Regions from separate parts of the Homo sapiens genome. Here region 2 is linked to region 1. Evidence: fine-mapped expression QTL. A gene starts in region 1. The other region holds a variant in brackets. All regions are shown on one strand. Distances are between the middles of the regions. Region 1 holds the start of ANAPC2 (anaphase promoting complex subunit 2). Region 2 has its middle 5.4 kb from the start of CLIC3.

Region 1 (10,012 bases):
CCCTGGACATGGGTCCCCTGGTGAGTGTCTAAGCCCAGAGTGCTGGGTGGCCGGGCAGCACACAGCACCTGGATGCAGGAGCCGAGTCTCCAGGGCAGCCTTGAGGGACACGAGCAGCTGCTGCCTCTGGTCCGTCCTCTCCAGGCAGTACTTGAGGTCCTCGATGGCTGGCCGGGAGTCTGGGAAGTCTACAAGAAGAAGAACATCCCTCAGGGACAGACATGGATGCGTGCGCACGTGCAGGCTGGTGCAGAGTGTGTGCGGTGTGGGAAAGGACACGTGCTTGCCAGCCCCAGGACGATGATGAGACCACCTGCTAGGCACCAGACATCCCCCCGACACTCTGGCGTGCTGATGCATTTGACCACAATGCCACAGGGTGGACAGAGCAACACCCAGGGGCCAGTCCCCAGCAGGAGCCAAGGCCAAGGCAGCACAGCAGTGGACACCCAGAAGCACTGTCCAGCATCTGCCACACCTGCCCTGATCCAGGCACGGGGGACGCCGCAGTGGGGACAGTCCCAGCACTGCCCGGTGCACCCCCCTGCAAGAGCGACAGCGAAGGCACAGGGAGCCCCAGACGTGGACACAGGGAGCCCAGATGCAGACACAGAGCCGACATGGCGAAGGCCCTGGGAGCCCCAGATGCAGACACAGAGCAGACACGGCGAAGGCACAGGGAGCCCAGACGCAGACACAAGGAGCCCAGACACAGACACAGAGCAGACACGACGAAGGCCCTGGGAGCCCCAGATGCAGACAAAGAGCAGACACGGTGAAGGCACGGGGAGCCCAGACGCAGACACAGGGAGCCCAGACGCAGACACAGAGCAGACACGGTGAAGGCACAGGGAGCCCAAGACGCAGACACAGAGCAGACACGGCGAAGGCACAGGGAGCCCAGATGCAGACACAGAGCAGACACAGCGAAGGCCCTGGGAGCCCCAGACGCAGACACAGGGAGCCCAGACGCAGACAGAGCAGACACGGCGAAGGCCCTGGGAGCCCCAGACGCAGACAGAGCAGACACGGTGAAGGCACAGGGAGCCCAGACGCAGACACAGGGAGCCCAGACGCAGACACAGAGCAGACACGGCGAAGGCACAGGGAGCCCAAGACGCAGACACAGGGAGCCCAGACGCAGACACAGAGCAGACACGGCAAAGGCCCTGGGAGCCCCAGACGCAGACACAGAGCAGACACGGTGAAGGCACAGGGAGCCCAGATGCAGACACAGAGGAGACACGGGGAAGGCCCTGGGAAGACTCCCCAGACGGGAGAGCGGACCCCAGGGCCGGGGCAGGACCACCTCGGACGATGCTGAAGAGCTCCTCGATGCGCAGGCTGGCGTAGATGCGGTAGAAGAACCTTTGCACGTGGCAGCGCCAGCGGCGCAGGGTGTTGCCGGCCTCGGGAGATGCGGGCCTGGCGGGGCCGTCCTGCAGGAACACCTTGCCGAGCCAGCCGACCACCCGCTCGATCCACTGTCAGGAGAACGCTAGTGTGAGCTGCAGGGAGGCATGGTGAGCCCCGGGCTGACTCAGAGGCTGGGAGGAGCCTCACGGCCACCCACCCTGTCGGCCGGGACCGAGGGGAGCCCGAAGGCCACCTGCGTCTGGAGGCTGGAGCACATCAAAACCTGCAGGGTGGGTGATGGCCCAAAAGGCGACGTCCCGGCCCCCCTGCAGTCTTCGTGCCTCTCACACGCGCCAGTGCCCACACTTATCACTGGCAGCAGCAACCCTAGCGTGAGACATGACAGACACACACGACCTGTGCGCTGTGCCTGGTGGGCACACTTGCCCCCACTTAAATGGATAAACACGCCCTTGAGACCAGCCGGGGGGCCCAGGCGAGCACAAACCTCTAGGTGGCAATTCCGCCGCGGGGCCCAGGCGTGCTCATGCCCCACAGACCTGCTACCCAGTGGCAAGACCGCACGGATGTTCACCCTCTCCACCCTACTACCCACTCTTGCCCACCGCTTTGGGGACACCCTCCCTCTTTGAAAACCCAACATCACAGCCAATCTGCACCTCAGTAGGGGGACTCTGAAACACTGAGGAAAGGACAGGTGACACATGGGAACAGGATGGGGGGACCCACATGGCTGGGCCCAGCTCCCCTATGGCTCCGGGAGCCCAGAGCAGAGCCCCAGACCACACCCCAACAGCACAGGTGCCTGGAGGCCCCATGTGAGGGTGTCTCGCTCCCCGCTGTGGTGCAGGCTGGCTGTAGGTCAGTCCATTAGGGACCGGCCAAGCGAGTCCACACTCAAGTAGGGCAGCAAACAGGAGAAGGGGATCCATTCAGTGGCTCCTCTGGTGGGCCCAGCTTCGCCACACCTGCCTGAGGTAGCCCCCTCGGGATCCTGGCCCGATACCGCCTGCAGCCATGGGATTCTGCGCAGATCCGAAGAGCGCACCTCAGATGCGTCCTCGCTATCACCAGGGCCCAGAAGTACTGGTCTCTACCCCACATCAAGACAGCTCCAGCCACCACCCGGTCTGGGCCCACCCAGGCCTCCGTGCTCTGGATGCTTCTGAAGCCAGGTGTCAGGTTTGCCAGAAACCTACTCCCCTGTCTCCAGCGGGGCACAGCCCAAGGGAGGGGTCCTCACCTTGTGGAACTCACGCAGGAAGGAGCGCTCGTACTCGCCCCGGCAACGGTCCTCCATCCTCTCCCGGGTCACCTGGTGCAGGGTGGTGGTCACAGCCTCGGCACTGACCCGCTCCAGCAGACTGAGCCTGTGTCTAGAGGAGAGCCCTGGCCATGGGGCACCCAGAGCACACACCGGCCCCTCTAGCCCAGAACAGCCCCATGCCAGGACTGCCCTGCCTGTAGAGTGCATGCAGCACACACACACACACACACCCAGCACACACCTCCCCACAATCCTCAGCTGTGGGGGGCGGTTGTACCAAAGGCTTCAAGAAGCCACTGGGAGCACAGAGCACTCCCAGGCTCTGCTGTCCCCGCCCAGCTGGCCTCTATCCAGGTAGGGACACTGGCCTTCCCCATGTGATCAGTGGCAGCAGGTGTGGCTGTCGGGGGCCCTAGCCTTATCTCCTAGGATCAACTCTGAAACGACAACCAACTGCACTGCTACCCTGGCCGCAGAGGTACAGATGCCACTGTTTGTGCCTTTCAGTGCAGTCTCTGGTCTACAGTGACAAAAGGACTCAAGAGGAGGATGAGAAAAGTTGCCGTGTAACTTTTGCAGGGATGAGCCCAACAGAAGCCCTTCACGGTCTCCCTGACCCCTGCCAGCAAAAGGAGCACTCCTTTAGTCCACCTTTAGTCCACCTAAGACCTCTCAAGTAGCTGCATGGCTACACCCCCGTTCAATGTGACAAAACCACCACAAATGGCCAAGGGTATGACAATTGCTAGAGAACTACAACAGGACCTGTCTCTCACAACAAACCCCTCTCCTCTCCAAACTAACAAGAGACTGCTTGCCCTCACAGTGACCTGATCTTCCTGGAGAGAAGCAGCAGCAAGCTTCTGTTCACAATTACAGGGCAAGGAATGTCGACGAGGGTGAGAATCATTCCTCCCCAGGATCGACAAAAGGCACAGTGGAATTCTGCAGAGTCCAGGAAGTTTGGAGTTGCTAAGAAATTTGCTGCTGCAGACACAAGCCACATAGGGCCTTACCAGGGTCAAGGCATGAATCTGTGGGACTGAAGGTGAGTGACAGAAGAGAGACACCTGTGTCCAGGACACGCTGCACAGGAATCCCTGGGACTCTCTCTCTGTCATGTTCCTGGTTATCAGGACGGCTCACCAGCTTTCTGCTGAGGCCAGCTGGACCCAGGGGAGCAGCGGGGAACCAGAAGGAGCAAGGGCATGGCCATCGGGACAGACTACTCACAAGACCTGGCTGAGCTGATGGAACTGCTCCAGAGCCTGGCGACACCAGCACTGTTGCTTGTCACTGCTGCACCCTGCACACAGCGGGCTCTGCAGGAGCCGGTAGTACCGGCGACGGGCATACCGGCTGTCCAGCTCCCCTTCCAGTTCCGGGTCTGTGCCCCCTTCCCCCTTCCTCTTACTCTGCATATAGACTCTCAAGAAGCACCCATACAGACGCTGGATCATCTCTTGGAAGGTTCTGGGGGTGCTAAAGAACAAGACTCCGCGCAACATAGTGTGGACTTCTTCTCGCAGCCCCTGAGCACCAGTGCCCATCAGCAAGCCCAGGCGAGTCCATTTCTCCAGCAGCTCTAGGCTACGCAGGTAGGGATCCAGGCGGCTCTCCAGCAGGCCAAAAGCGTCAAGGAGTAGCAAAAGGCACTGGGGCTCATCCGCAGAGTTCTCGCATTGGGAGATGGCATTCCAGAACTCAGGGGAGATGTTGGCCTGCAGATCGTTCTGCAGCACCTCCACGAACCACTCCTCCAGGACCGAGTGTAGCCCGTGGCCCCTCAGAACCTCCACCGCCGCCCGGAGCTCCTCTTCCTTTGGCGGGACTGCACCGCTGGTCCGGGAAGACACCTGGGGTGCAGAAAACCGTGAGGCGAGGGGAACACAACATAGAGGTGGGGAGAGGCGGGGAAGGGAAGAAGCTGAGGGGGAGGCTGCAAAAACTCCGCTGCCCCCTGTCCGTGCTGCCCGGACGTTGGGCCGAAGCTATGGAAGGGCTGTCAGCGGAGCTGAACGAAACGAAACGGAAAGGTGGTGGAAAATGGCAGGACAGGACAGAGGCGGATGATGGACAGAGCCGTATGAACCCGAGGGTAGCGGCCCCAAAGCGCGTACGGTCCCGGAAACTCCGCGCGGGGCCGCCCCTCTCTTCCCAGGCCTCACCAGCCCCAGCGCAGCCGGCGGCACCAGGCCGGTGCTCACGGTGTTCCAGGCCACTAACAACTCCTGTCCGGGCCGGGAGTCGCTGTCCCCCTCCGCCACCACAACTGCCGCCGCCATCTGCACCCACCGACTCCGAGATTCGCTCGGCGCGGCGCGCGGCGATGACGCACGTCTGCACGCGCAGCCATGACGCGCACAAGGCGCTCAGCGATGACGCGCTAGTTCGGCGCGCCGTGGGGGAGTCGTGCGCAGGCGCGGACAGCGCTGCTTCCGCGGCGGTTGGGGTGGTGGGGCCCCGGGCGGCGTTGACCATGACCCAGCAGGGCGCGGCGCTGCAGAACTACAACAACGAGCTGGTCAAGTGTGAGCGGCGCAGCCGGGACGGGGAGGTCGGGAGGGCCGCAGGGCCGGGTTCCCGGCTCGCAGCGGGGTGCCCCTGGACCCGCCTCGCTGCGGGCATCGCGCGGCTGAGCAGAGCCCTCCGTGCCGGAGGCCGGGTGTCCGTGGCCCGAGCCCTCGCTGGCTCGCAGGCCCCGCGCCGGGCGCTCGGGGGTGGTGCCTGACTCTGGCTTCCTCGGGTGGAAGGAGGCCCGCCCTCCGCCGCCGCGCTCCTGCCCTGGGCCCACAGCGCCGCCCCTCCCGGCCCCCAGGCATAGAGGAGCTGTGCCAGAAGCGGGAGGAGCTGTGCCGGCAGATCCAGGAGGAGGAGGACGAGAAGCAGCGGCTGCAGAATGAGGTGAGGCAGCTGACAGAGAAGCTGGCCCGCGTCAACGAGAACCTGGCACGCAAGATTGCCTCTCGCAACGAGTTCGACCGGACCATCGCGGAGACGGAGGCCGCCTACCTCAAGGTGGAGCTCGGGAGGCCAGGCCGAGCATCAGGGGATAGGCACGGCAGGGGTGTTGCCACGGCAAGGCGTCAGGACCGGCTGGGGCTCCCGGCTGTGGGCAGTCTGTGCCTCGCTGGCATTTCGGGCAGGGGCAGCGTGGCCAGGCCCATTGAGGAACCCAGGCTGCTGTGGGAGTGACTGTGGGGCTGTCTGTGGGGCCTGGGGCATCCTGGGTCCTGGTCTTTATCCGGTTCTCGCTAGCCATGTGGTTATTTCTGCTCAGTGTGAAGAGCCAGGTCTTGGGCAGAGCACCCAGCACGGGCCAGTGCTAACCCAGCCTGGCTTTGAGGGTGGAGAGGAAGTGTTTTGGGTCAGATTCCGGAGGGAAGAGGGCCCTGCCACCCCGTCTGCCAGTCCCCTTGGGCTTCCGCCTTCCCCCACACAGGATCCCTTGGCTACAGCACCCCCAGCCAGGTCCCAGCACCTGAGTGTGAGGACAGCTGGGGCTTAGGACCTTACCAACAGGTGAACATTAACAACCTTCTCACTTCTCTGGCCCCAGATCCTGGAGAGCTCCCAGACTTTGCTCAGCGTTCTCAAGAGGGAAGCTGGGAACCTGACCAAGGCTACAGCCCCAGACCAGAAAAGTAGCGGCGGCAGGGACAGCTGACCAGACCACGGGCAGGGCCTGCCTCCGTGTGCCCCTCAGCTCAGCCCCAGCAAGTGTGTGCTCAGAGCATCTTTGTTCTTCACGGCAGCAGCTACCTTCCCTCACTGTCTCAGGTGCCGAGAGGGGCAGGTGCCAGCCTCCACTGGCATCAGTGACAAGCCCAGGGCACAGCCCACCCGGGGGTCCTCGCTTCATGCTCACACAGGCTATGGGGATGGTGGGCTCCAGGTCAGCTCTGCAAGGGGCTTGTCTCTGTGGCACCCACACTCCTGCCCTGCCAGGGAGGCTCTGGTTGTCTGAGCACCATGGGGGCCCCCTCACCTTGTCCCTCCTCAGCCAGCAGAGGCCCAGGGCAAGGGACAGGAGGACAGGGGTTCTCCTTCACCACAGAACCCAAACCTCAGGTCTCACCCCTGTGGCCTGTGATTATGAATAAAGATTATCTTTGTAAAGATCCGTGCCAGCCTGCTGCTTGCCCGTATCAACAGCATGGGGCTGCCAGACACCTGCAGAGCCAGAGCCTGAGGCTCCCCCTTGGGAGAGGAGGGAGGAGGGTCTGGAGTGGCCTCCCTGTGACTGCCCCACTAGCCTCAGGGACACCGCTGAGGGTGCCCACCCTCCCCAGGCCAGCCCCACCCTGAGCCCTCCCCAGCAGGGCCGCCGGTCCTCTTCCCCTGACTGGCCCACGGCTCACCCTCCTCTCAGGAGCTCTGCTTGCTCGTCCTGTTCTCTGCCACACCCTGGTGGCCAGCATAGGACCCAGCCCAGAGAGACAGCTGGGGATGCCAAGCATATCCAGCAGCTGCCTCAGATTCAGGTCCCTCTCAGCAAGGACTGGGGGGAGTTCACACCCCCCACCCCCGTCGGTTCCTCAGTTGCAAGTTTTGCTTGGCCTGATGACACCACTGCTGCCACCAGGCCCTGCTGCCCACCTTTCCCTGGCCGCACACCAAGCACTGGCCACTTCCATCCTTCCATGTGCCCTGGGGCCTCTGTTTTGTCCCTGCAGCAACCAAGCATGGCCCGAGGACTGGGCCGATTTGGGAGGCATGTGTTGATCCAGAGGGTCCAGAAAAGAGCTGGGCCTAACCCGACCAGGGAAATACACCAAACTCTCCTTCCGCCGGAGTTTGGCCAGACAGCATCTCTTTATCTCTTTGCTCTTAGGTTTGATCCTCCAGGGAGGAAATGGTGCTTGGGTTCCATGGGCTGTAAACAGCCCCAGCTCTGGCCGTCTGAGGCAGGCGCTGCTCCCGGCCTGCCTCATCCTGTGGGTCGGGGGGCACGCCAAGCCCAGCAGAAGACACCGTCCCCTGTGCTGCCCTCATGCTGCCCTTCCCTTGGTCCCTCCCCAGGCTCTGGGCCCCTCAGAGAAGCCACTTCAGGCCCAACAGCTGCAACACTCTCACCCTCCCACCTGAAGTCTAGGCCCCTGACAGCAGGCCTGTCATCCTACCTCCCACAGTGCCAGCTCTGGGAGGCTGGGGTGGAGGGGCAACAGGTTAACAGGCCATGGAAGTTGGGAGGTCAGAGCCTTGGCCACTGGGACATCAAGGAGTGGGGGTACCAGATCGGGGTCACCTCCCACACACCCTGGCATAGACGTGCAAACTGGGGCCCACTGGACCCCATGTGGCCTCTTCCTGCAGAGACCTCCCCCTGCTCCCTTCTCAGCCAAGGACCACGCAGTGGGGACACCAGCAGCCTTGTCCAGTGCTGTTTATTGAGTCCATCATCAGAGGCAGGAAAGACGCCACTCATCACAGAGGGCATGTGGGCTGCGGGCAGGGGCTTAGGGTCCTGCAGAGGACAAGTAGCTGGGACAGCCCTTCACCCCGACACCCCATGGCCACTGTGAGGCAGGCTGAGGAGACAGGACAGGGAATGGCCAGGTGCAGAATCTGCACAGCCCCCTGCCGGGTCGCAGATGGCCACCACCCAGCAGGCCCCTGGCACTCACCCACAGGCAGTTCCCCACCCCACTTCCCCCTTGGACCCTCCCAAATCAGGGCCGGGGAGTGAGACCCAGACCTGGCCCCGATGGCAGGAGGCACCCTAGCTGCTTCCAGGGCCAGGAGGGGTGGGTGGGATACAGTGAGGCCAAACAAGGCAGAAGCGGGTGCAGTAGTCCCTGGCTACTGCCCAGCTTCCGGGACTCCCACAGCTGGGCTCAGCCTTGGTCCTGGCAGTGCTGGGCTCAGAAATACAGGGCTGGCTCGCTGCGGAAGTCCGAGAGGTCATTCTGACTGGCGGGTGTGAGCTGAAAGTGAGAGGACAGAATGTGGACACATGGGCTCGCCCGGGTGTCAGACTCCCCCCAGCGCTCCACTCCCCCGCATCTCACCATGGCCTCCACGGGCGGGGGCTCTGCCTCCCTCGGGGCCTGCTCCAGCGCCTGCTCCTGCCACTTGCTGAAGGCCACAGAGTGCTTCGGGGTGTAGCTGGACAGGCCTGTGAATGGAGGTGCACATGCAGACGTGGACACAGACCAGGCTCCACCCCTCCCAGGCTGCCTGTCCCCCAGGTGGGCACTCACCTGAGCTACCCTCTGGCAGCCGAGAGCTCTCGGGTCTCACGCTGCTCACAAACGTGGCCCGGGGCAGGAAGAGTGCAAAGGGCTTCTCCTCTGAGCCGGATCCCTCTTCCTCCTCTTCCTCTTCCTCCTCCTCCTCCTCCTCCTCCTCCTGCTGGTCCACCTCTTCCTCCTGCTCTAGGGAGCTCTCGGAAGGGTACTCAAATGTGGTCTGCAGGCTTTTGTCGTTGAAGGAGATCTTCATCTGGGAGTGAGAGTCACGTGAACGAGGGCTGAGGGCCCACATGGGCACAGTGATGCCAGGGGCTCAGGTTCAGCCCTCAGGATGAGGCTGACCCAAGTGGGGCGCCAGACACACCATCAACCGTTCCGGGGGCTCCAGGAGGGGGCACAGAGCTCTCCAGCTGGACCCTGCAGGCGTCCATCCCTCCACCCTGGGGGTCAACCTCCCCTCCCCATTCCAGCCAGGGACCAAACGCTGACCAGGACCAGGAGCCCAAAGCCTCTGGGTCCCCAGAAGCCTCTAGACCAGCTCCTGGAGCTACCATCTCAGGCCCCTCCTGCTCTGCTGTCTGGGCAGAGTGCCAGCTGGGGGGAAACTGGGGTGGACACATCCCCTCCCACCAAGCAGCTCTAGAGCAGGAACAGGGTGGAAAAGAGGCTGTCCCCTCAGGGGCCTTGCACTCTAGGCTCCAGGCAGCTCCTGCTGGTGTCTGGGGCCTCTCTCTAAAGCCAAGTTCATGTCCTGGCTTACTGGATGCCTGGACAATCCAGCAGAGCATGGACCCCCCACTGTGAACAGGGGCCTCTGTGAGCCGTCAAGGCCAGGCAGTAGCCTCAGGCACCATCACCCACCTAACATAGTTGAGAGTTGGCCTGCGGCTGTGCAGAGTAGGGGGCTGCCTCCACTGAGCCTGGGTGCCAGCAACCCCAGCAGTGACCCCTTCCTCACCCTGCTGCCCCTCTGGCCCTCGTCCTCCATCCCCACTTCGTAGGCTGCAAGATTTCACATCTGAGCAAATTCTTTCCTTCTCCCAGTGGCCTTGAAGCCCAGGCAGGGCTGCTGGTTCCCAGGGGTAATGGGGGCAGTGGGGACCAATGGTCAGGACTCTCCACCTCCCCTGAACGGGGCTTGCATGGGGCTAAGCTCCCCACAACAGCCGAGCTC
Region 2 (10,012 bases), 190 kb before region 1:
AGGGGGCGGCTCTGGGTCAGGACCACCTCCACCGTGAACCCAGCTCAGACCCTGCCCTATGGCTCTCCCTTCCGCAAATACCCCTTGTCAGGGCTCCCAGCCCAGAAAGCCAGTGGGTGTGGGTGAGCAGGAGAAATGGCCTGCCCAGCCTGGCTTCAGTTCCCCATCTGCAGCACCAGGGCATCGGGAGGGTGATAAGCCCACCTGGGGGAGCCGCCCCTTCCCAGCTACGGAGCAGTCAGGCAGGGCCCTCCCCGCTCAGGGCAGGGCTCAAATTCCAGACCTGCCCGCAACAGGGCGGGGAGGCCAGCCTGGCTTTGGTGTTTGGCCGGCAGTGCAGGTCTCCACCCCACCTCCCATCCCTCCCACTGGCGCTCAGCGCAGGTTTCTTACCCCCAACCCCTTAACCTTTAAAAAGAAGCAGCAGGAGAGGGGTTAGAAGCCACAGCCTGCGTGGCTGGAAGAAAGAGGCCAGGGGAGGGTGGTGGTCCACAGGTGTGAGCCTGCGCTGAGCCTCCTGGCGTGATTGGAACCCACAGTTCAGTCTGGCCCTTTGGGGTCGCCAACTGTGCCTTCCTCCCACCTGGCCCTGACGCTTTAGGGTGCAGCCCCAGGGAGGTACACCGAGGGGAGATTCCACCCAGAGACCTGGGGTGCCCACAGGATTGGCCTGGCCACACCTCCCCCAGGCGGTGTGGTGCCTCACCAGCCTGGACAGGGCAGCTGAGGTGGCACTGCTCTCCTGCTCACCTTCTCCCCAGGGCCTTGGTACGGGCCCCTCATCCGTCCCCGGTGGAACACACTCCAGTGCTGCCCCAGTCAGCCCAGCCTGATGCTTCTCTGGATACCACGCCAGTCGGGGCTCCTGGACACAGAGCCTTGGAAATACCATGTGGCTGCCCCATCCTTTGGTGTCCTGAACCTCAATTTCCCTCCATCCGGCCTCCACCTCGATTCCAAGCCCTAGTATTTCAGCTCTTTCTGGACACTGTGGTTATAGCTCCGCTTGCTGGTTTCCCACATCCCTGGCAGGCAAATGGCCAACCACAGAGAAGCCCCAGGCCCCCAGCCCCCTCTGCTGCCCCGGCATCCTGTGTCTTTAACACCGACAGACGCACCCTCACAAACCCACAGGAAAAATGACGGCACGGACAGAGGCCGTGAACCGGTGGCTCAGAAGGAAAAAGAAAACAAGACACAGGAAGACCATTCACCTCACGCCCGTCTCAAGAAACAAACCAACAAGACTCGGTTCACCGCTGCAGCGGCCCCACTGCGTTCTGTGGGCGTGGGCTGTGGACTGTGGAGCGGCAGTGGCCATCCAACACCCCCCTGTGCCCTCGCCACCTGGGAATCAGCCCGGTGGCTTCCTTTTTTTTTTATGGTTTAATCAATTCATTTATTTACTAGAAACAGGGTCCTGCCATGTTGCCCAGGCTGGTCTCCACCTCATGGGCTCAAGTGACCCACCTGCCTTGGTCTCCCACAGTGCTGGAACTACAGGCGCGAGCTGCCACACCCGGCCGGTTTCCCTGTGAAGGGCAAGTGAGTGCTGGCTGCCCCACTGCGTGGCGTGGCGTGGCGTGGCGTGGCTCCGTGGCACGGCCACCACCCTGTCTATGGGAGACTCCAGTTGTGTCCAGGGAGAAGGACGGAAAAGGTGACTCCATGCATGCCCACTGCAGGGAGGGCCTGAGATTAGGTAAATGGCGTGGCTTGTGTCCCCTTAAATTTAAATTCTTAGGCTGGAGTCCTAACCCCTAGTGCCTCAGAATGTGACCTTATATGGGCCGGGCACGGTGACTCATGCCTGTAATCCCAGCAGTCTGGGAGGCCGAGGGGGGTGGATCACCTGAGGTCAGGAGTTTGAGACCAGCCTGACCAACATGGTGAAACCCCGTCTCTACTAAAAATACAAAAATTAGCCAGGCATAGTGGCAGGCACCTGTAATCCCAGCTACTCGGGAAGCTGAGGCAGGAGAAGTGCTTGAACCCGGGAGACAGAGTTGCAGTGAGCAGAGATAGTGCCACTGCATTCCAGCCTGGGCAACAGAGCAAGACTCCATCTTGGAAAAAAAATAAAGAATGTGACCTTATGTGGAAACAGGGGCTTTTTAACATTTTTTTTGAGACAGAGTCTTGCTCTGTTGCCCAGGCTGGAATGCAGTGGTGCAATCTCGGCTCACTGCAACTTCTGCCTCCTGGGTTCAAGCAATTCTACTTTCTCAGCCTCTGGAGTAGCTGGGATTACAGGTACACGTCACCACGCTGAGCTTTTTTTTTTTTTCCTTGTATTTGTAGTAGAGACAGGGTTTCACCATGTTGATCAGGCTGGTCTCGAACTCCTGACCTCAGAAGATCTACCCACCTTGGCCTCCCAAAATGCTGGGAATACAGGTGTGAGCCACCGCACCCGGCTGAAATAGGGTCTTTATAGAAGTTATCAAGTTAAAATGTGGTGAGTAGGATGTGCCCTGATCCAATATGACTGATGTCAGTATAGAAAGGCGAGTTTGGACACAGATGCACAGGGAGGGCCGCAGGCAGAAATCAGGGTGGCACATCTGTAAGCCTGGGAGCCAAGCGGATGCTCTCCAAGGCCCTTGGGAGGAAGCAGCCCTGCCCAAGCCTAGGTGCTATGTCTGACCTCCAGACTGCTAGGCAGTGAGCTTCTGTTTTTTTTGTTTTTTTTTTTTAATGAGATGCAGTCTTGCTCTGTCGCCCAGGCTGGAGTGCAGTGGCACAATCTCGGCTCACTGCAAGTTCTGCCTCCCCAGGTTCACGCCATTCTCCTGTCTCAGCCTCCCAAGTAGCTGGGACTACAGGCGCCCGCTACCACACCTGGCTAATTTTTGTATTTTTAGTAGAGACGGGGTTTCACTGCGTTAGCCAGGATGGTCTCGATCTCCTGACCTCGTGATCCGCTCGCCTCGGCCTCCCAAAGTGCTGGGATTACAGGCGTGAGCTCCCGCGCCCCGCGGTGTTGTTGTTTTAAGATGGAGTCTCACTGTCACCCAGGCTGGAGTGCAATGGCTCAATCTCGGCTCATTGCAACCCGCGCCTCACCGGCTGAAGCGATTCTCCTGCCCCAGCCTCCCGAGTAGCTGGGATTACAGGCGCCCACCACCACGCCTGGCTAATTTTTGTATTTTTAGTAGAGACGGGGTTTCACCATGTTGGTCAGGCTGGTCTCAAACTCCTGACCTCAAGTGATCCGCCCACCTCGGCCTCCCAAAGTCAGTTTCTGTTGTTTTAAACCCCTCACTTTGTGGTCCTTTGCATGGCAGCGCCAGCAAGCTAATAAGTAAAGCAGGGAGAAGCCAGGAAATGGAAGAAAATCAGCATTAGGATCTGTCATTCTGAGTCTCTACTTGAACAGAGCTGAAAAAAGACGCAAGGAGCTGTCTGTGGGATGACCCCTGACAGGCAGAAACAGGCTTTCAGTTTTGCTTCCTGTCTGTCCACACTGTTTGCATTTTCTACCACATTTTTGTAATACCACATTTTCTACCACAATTTCATAATGTTTTGAAGTAAGAACAGTATCACAGCCACTAACCTTAACTAGACCCTGGTCCCCGAGGCCACGGGGTTATCCCTAAACCTCCCGTCCCCTGCAGCCCCTGCTCCTGATTCATAGAGCCAGCGTTAGAGGGGCCCAAGCTGAGGTCCCGAGGCTGCTGCTCTGGGACTGACTGACTGGTGGGTTAGAACTCTCTCCCTCCCCAACACCCCTCCCTGTAGGCCCCTTCCAAGGGGCT[CTTTT/C]TTTTTTTTTTTTTTTTTTTTTTTGAGACAGGGTTTCACTCTGTCACCCAGGCTGGAGTGCAATGGCGCAGTCATAGCTCACTGCAGCCTCCACCTCCTGGGCTCCAGTGATCCTCCTGCCTCCGCCTGCACAGGGCCACACCCCAGTGACATTTGAGCAGCTCTGTTCTGAAGGGAGACACACACCTGTTTGGGGGGCCGGAGGGCTGGGGGCATTGGGGTATTGGTGCAAACTTGTGCAGAGATTTATCTGCTCTGTGCATGGAGAGAGCCTAGAAGCAGTGAGACCTCGGGAGCGGTGAGACCTCGGGGGCGGCGAGACATCGGGGGCGGCGTGACCTCGGGGGCGGCGAGACCTCGGGGGCGGCGGGACCTCGGGGGCGGCGGGACCTCGGGGGCAGCGAGACCTCGGGAGCAGTGTGCAGACCAGAGCTCAGATTCTGGTCCCAAAGCCCATCTTCCCTAAAAGGAACCAGGGTTCTGCTAGGGACTGAATGTGTCCTCCCCAAAATTTGTGTGTTGAAACCCTGGCCCCTAGGCCAGGCACATGGCTCACGCCTGTAATCCCAGCACTTTGGGAGGCCGAGGTGAGTGGATCACCTGAGGTTGGGAGTTCCAGACCAGCCAGACCAAAATGGGGAAACCCTGTCTCTACTAAAAATGCAAAATTAGCCGGGCGTGGTGGCACATGCCTGTAATCCCAGCTACTCGGGAGGCTAAGGCAGGAGAATCGCTTGAACCTGGGAGGCAAAGTTTCCGGTGAGCCGAGATCACTCCATTGCACTCCAGCCTGGGTGACAAAGCGAGACTCTGTCTCAAAAAAAAAAAAAAAAACAAAACAAAACCCTGTCTCCTGCAAGGTGATGGTGTTAAGAAGTGGGGTTGGCTGGGCGCGGTGGCTCAAGCCTGTAATCCCAGCACCTTGGGAGGCCGAGGCAGGCGGATCACAAGGTCAGGAGATCGAGACCATCCTGGCTAACATGGTGAAACCCCATCTCTACTAAAAATACAAAAAATTAGCCGGGCGTGGTGTCAGGCGCCTGTAGTCCCAGCTACTCAGGAGGCTGAGGCAGGAGAATGGCATGAACCCAGGAGGCGGAGCTTGCAGTGAGCCAAGATTGCGCCACTGCACTCCAGCCTGGTGACAGATCGAGACTCAAAAAAAAAAAAAAAAAAAAGAAGCGGGGTCTTTTGGAGGTGGGTAGGTCATGAAGGTGACACCCTCGAGATGACCAGAATCAGCGCCCTCATAAAAGGGACCCCGGAGAGCTCCCTCGCTCCTCCTGCCAGGTGAGGAGTCAAGGGAAGTCCACAACCCAGAAGAGCCCTCGCCAGAACCCAGCCATGCTGGCGTCCCGACCTCGGACTTCGAGCCTCCAGAGCTGTGAGGCATGAATGCCACCCGTCCAGGGTCCTTTGCACAGCAGTCCTGGTCGGACTGAGACAGGCTCCTTGGAGAGAGGCTGATTCCAGGTGTGGGGCAGGGAAGGCAGGGACGCACTCAAAACACATCAGGAGCTGGTTACGAAGACACAGAAGCCGTGCTGGAGGGGCGCCTGCTGGAGGGGCACCGCTGGCTGGACCTCAGGCCATCTGAGCATAAGACAACAGTGGATTGTGCGTTATGAATGGTTAACGTGATAAATGTTACATAGATTTTACCACCATCAAAAAATTTTAAAAGAGCCAGATGCAGTGGCTCACCCCTGTAATCCCAACACTCTGGGAGGCTGAAGTGGGAGAATCCCTTGAGCTCAGGAGTTGAAGACCAGCCTGGGCAATATAGCAAGACCCTATCTATACAAAAATAAAAATAAAAATTAGTCGTGTGTGGTGGCACATGCCTGTAAGGAGGCTGAGGCAGGAGGATCACTTGAGCCCAGGAGTTGGAGGCTGCAGTGAGCTATGATTGCACCACCACACTCCAGCCTGGGTGACAGAGCAAGACCCTGTCTCAAAATAAGTAATTAAAAGATGACAGTAATGCATGTTAACACATTAATTTTTTTAAACCTGCAAGTCTGTACTGATAGACTTTTTAAAGTGGAGGGGCCCTTGGTGAGAGAGAAATGCCAGCCAGTAGATGCAGAAATGGAATAGAGGCAGGAAATGGCCATTTTGCAGCTGCTGGCCCTGGGTGACGGGGGTCGGGGGGCGCGGCCACGCAGCACCCAGATTGCGTTCCCACATCTAAGGGAGGGAGAACTGGGCCTCAACCAGGCGGCCACATTCAGCATCACCTGCTGAGGGACAGATGGACACCTGGAGGTGACCGACACAGCGTGTCCCAGTGCTGCTCCGGCCAAAAATGTCCAACCTGCATCCAGCCAGGAGGAAATGAAGACACATCCAGAGCTCAGCCTGGGCCTGCGGAGCCTGTCCCCCTGGAAGGGCAAGAACGCCAAGGCTGGGGACGGCTCAGAGGGGCCCCGGGGAAGGCAGCAAGACACAAGGAGTGCCTCGTGGTTGGATCCTGGATTTTTATTTCCTTTTTTTGTTTGTTTGTTTGAGACAGAGTCTCACTCTGTCGCTGAGGCTGGAATGCAGTGGCACAACCTCAGCTCACCGCAACCTCCACCTCCCAGGTTCAAGCGATTCTCCTGCCTCAGCCTCCCGAGTAGCTGGGATTACAGGCATGTGCCACCACACCCGGCTAATTTTGTATTTTCAGTAGAGACAGGGTTTCTCCATATTGGTCAGCCTGGTCTTGAACTCCCAACCTCAAGTGATCCACCCGCCTCGGCCTCTCAAAGTGCTGGGATTACAGGTGTGAGCAACCATGCCCAGCCTTTTCTTTCTTTCTTTTTTTTTTTTTTTTGAGACGGAGTCTCACTCTGTCACCCAGGCTGGAGCGCTGCTCACTGCAACCTCCGCCTCCCAGATTCTAGTGATTCTCCTGCCTCAGTCTCCCATGTAGCTGGGATTACAGGCGCTACAATGCCCAGCTAATTTTGTATATTTAGTAGAGATGGGGTTTCGCCATGTTGGCCAAGCTGAACTCCTGATTTCAGGTGACCTGCCTACCTCAGCCTCTCAAAGTGCTGGGATGACAGGCTTGAGCCACAGCACCTGGCTGATCCTGGTTTTTTGGAAAAACTCTAAAGAGCATGCCTAGGGCCGGGTGCAGTGGCTCACATCTGTCATCCCAGCACTTTGGGAGGCCGAGGCTGGGAGATCACCTGAGGTTGGGAGTTCGAGACCAGCCTGGCCAACATGGTGAAACCCCCATCTCTACTAAAAATACAAAAATTGGTCAGGCACGGTGGCTCACGCCTGCAATCTCAACACTTTGAGAGGCCGAGGCTAGGCGATCACCTGAGGTCAGGAGTTCAAGACCAGCCTGGCCAACATGGTGAAACCCCATCTCTACTAAAAATACAAAAATTGGCTGGGCATGGTGGCACACATCTGTAATCCCAACACTTTGAGAGGCCAAGGCTGGGTGATCACCTGAGGTCAGGAGTTCGAGACTGTGGGCGGCAAGCTACCCAGGCACCAAGGCAAGAGACCGAGGACATGAGCTGTTCCAGTATAATAAAATATAAAACAAGAATAGTTATACCAGATATAGAACTTAGATATGATTATATATGAATATCATTAATCATTAGTTTGTAGCAATTACTTTTTATTCCAATATTATAATAATCCTCGCTCTATAATCATAGCCTAGGAAAAACCAGGCCATACAGAGATAGGAGCTGAGGGGACATAGTGAGGTGTGACCGGAAGACAAGAGTGCGAGCCTTCTGTTATGCCCGGACAGGGCCACCAGAGGGCTCCTTGGTCTAGCGGTGACGCCAGCGTCTGGGAAGACGCCCGTTGCCAGGCGGACCGTGGTCCAGCGGTAGCAAAAGGTGTCAAGGAACAACACCCGCTACTTAGCAGACCAGGAAAGGGAGTCTCCCTGTCCCCGGGGGAGTTTAGAGAAGACTCTGCTCCACCTCTTGTGGAGGGCCTGACATCAGTCAGACCTGCCCGCAGTTATCCGGAGGCCTAACCGTCTCCTGTGATGCTGTGCTTCAGTGGTCACGCTCCTAGTCCGCCTTCATGTTCCATCCTGTACACCTGGCTCTGCCTTCTAGATAGCAGTAGTCAATTAGTGAAAATACTAATAGTCCCTGATATGCAGAAATAATGGCATAAGCTGTCTTTCTCTCTGTCTCTTCTCTCTCTCTCTGCCTTGGCTGCCAGGCAGGGAAGGGCCCCCGTCCAGTGGACACGTGACCCACGTGACCTTACCTATCATTGGAGATGGCTCACACTCCTTATCCTGCCCCTTCTGCCTTGTATCCAATAAATAACAGTGCAGCCAGACATTCGGGGCCACTACTGGTCTCCACGCATTGGTGTTAGTGGTCCCCCGGGCCCAGCTGTCTTTTATCTCTTTGTCTTGTGTCTTTATTTCTACACTGTCTCGTCACCGCACATGGGGAGAGACCCACCGACCCTGTGGGGCTGGTCCCTACACGAGACCAACCTGGCCAACATGGTGAAACCCCATCTCTACTAAAAATACAAAAATTGGCCAGGCGCGGTGGTTCACACCTGTCATCCCAGCACTTTGGAAGGCTGAGGCTGGGGCAATCACCTGAGGTCAGGAGTTAGAGACCAGCCTGGCCAACATGGTGAAACCTCATCTCTACTAAAAACACACACACACACACAAAAATCAGCCGGGCATGGTGATGCGCGCCTGTAGTCCTAGCTACGCAGGAGGCTGAGGCAGGAGAATGGTGTGAACCCGGGAGGCGGAGCTTGCAGTGAGCCGAGATTGTGCCCCACTCCAGCCTGGGCAAGAGAGTGAGACTCCGTCTCCTCAAACAAATAATAATAAAAAATAAAAAAGGGCATGCCTGGGCCACCGGGGCCCTGAAAAGCCTTGCTGTACCCTTTGTTAACTCTGGGCTACCCTGGCGGCTCTTGGGGGAAGGAGGCTGCAGGGCCGGGGCTGGCAGGTCACAGCTGCTTGCTTTCACATGGGGCAGCACAAAAGTGGGTAGAGCGACGGTGCGTGTGGCAAGATTTCACAGGCGCATCGGCTGAAGATGCGGCGTGCGCTCTGCTATTCTCGCAACTTTCCTGAAAGTTTAAAATGTTCTTTTTGCTGTTGTTTTGAGACAGAGTCTCACTCTGTCATCCAGGCTGGAGTGCAATGGCACGATCTTGGCTCACTGCAGCCTCTACCTGCCAGGTTCAAGTGATTCTTCTGCCTCAGCCTCCCGAGCAGCTGGGAATACAGGCGCCCACCACCACACCCAGCTAATTTTTGTAGTTTTAGTAGAGATGGGGTTTCACCATGTTGGCCAGGCTGGTCTCGAACTCCTGACCTCAGATGATCCACCTGCCTCGGCCTCCCGAAGTGCTGGGATTACAGGCGTGAGCCACCGTGCTCGGCGGAAAATGTTCTGAGGAAGATGCTGGGGGGTGTGTTTGCTTTCAATGCTGCATTACACATCATGAAAATGAAACCTCTAGGGACGATGCCCCCGTGAACTGTGTCAGTCTGTGGGCGGCTGTCCAGGTCCAGCCTGGCCTGGTCCTGCGCGCAGGGTCTCCCTGGGCCTCGGCTGGGCCGTGTTCCTTTCTCGACCTCTTTCTGCCATGATTCAGCCCCTACAGTTGCAGGACGGAGGCTGCTGCGGCCTCCTGCCTTCTGGCGGCTCCCCCACGCATTTCCCTTGGCCGACCACCAAACCCACACCAGCCCCTCCAGTGAGCCACTGTTCCTCTCGGTTCTTCCAGAGTGAACCGCCCCCAGGGCCCAGGACAGCTTCACCCCAGTGACCCAGCCTCTCAGGGACTCCAGCATGGTCATCCCACTGCCTCTCAGGTGGTCACAGTGAGTGCCTCATAGGAACCCAAGTGGATGTGTTGGCCCAGCCCACCCAGTGCCCTCAAGCCCATGGGCCCCTCCCCTGTTGTCCCCCATGTGGCACCAGCCCTCAGTGAGTCCACCCTCTACCCTCCTGAGGAGCCTTGAAACGGCCTAAGGCAAGAGTCTGAACTTGGCCCAGATCACGGGGCGTGAGCTCTGGGGGCCATTCATGCCCCTCCCCCATCTCCTGCCCACAGTGTGCCAGGCTCCACCGCTGATGAGCCTCAAAGCTTCCAGGTCCTGCCTCCCTGGGGCCTTGGCCTGTGCCCTGCCCTCTGGCTGGGATGCCCTTCCCTTAAGGAATCTTCACAGACTTCGGTCTCCTCCTGGAGGTCGCCTCTTCCTGGAAGCCCTCGCTGTCCCTTCCAT

What was found.
Region 2: its variant is fine-mapped to the expression of ANAPC2 in whole blood (INTERVAL, PIP 0.98).

The regions. Positions count from the first base shown.
Region 1 is chr9:137,183,604-137,193,615 of GRCh38, forward strand. ANAPC2 (anaphase promoting complex subunit 2) reads right to left here and starts at 4,957. Exons shown (of 13, transcript NM_013366.4): 1 at 4,813-4,957; 2 at 3,878-4,500; 3 at 2,621-2,753; 4 at 1,310-1,484; 5 at 69-188. The coding sequence starts at 4,929. SSNA1 (SS nuclear autoantigen 1) reads left to right here and starts at 5,073. Exons shown (of 3, transcript NM_003731.3): 1 at 5,073-5,175; 2 at 5,463-5,662; 3 at 6,204-6,763. The coding sequence starts at 5,124. The coding sequence ends at 6,311. TPRN (taperin) reads right to left here. Exons shown (of 4, transcript NM_001128228.3): 2 at 8,848-9,088; 3 at 8,656-8,762; 4 at 8,016-8,571. The coding sequence ends at 8,509. RefSeq lists an enhancer at 4,865-5,084 and a silencer at 5,115-5,464.
Region 2 is chr9:136,996,913-137,006,924 of GRCh38, forward strand. No RefSeq gene overlaps it. Among named protein-coding and RNA genes, the nearest start is that of CLIC3, 5.4 kb to the left of the region's middle. RefSeq lists an enhancer at 3,254-3,373. The variant CTTTT/C (reference allele first, on the strand shown) is at 3,762.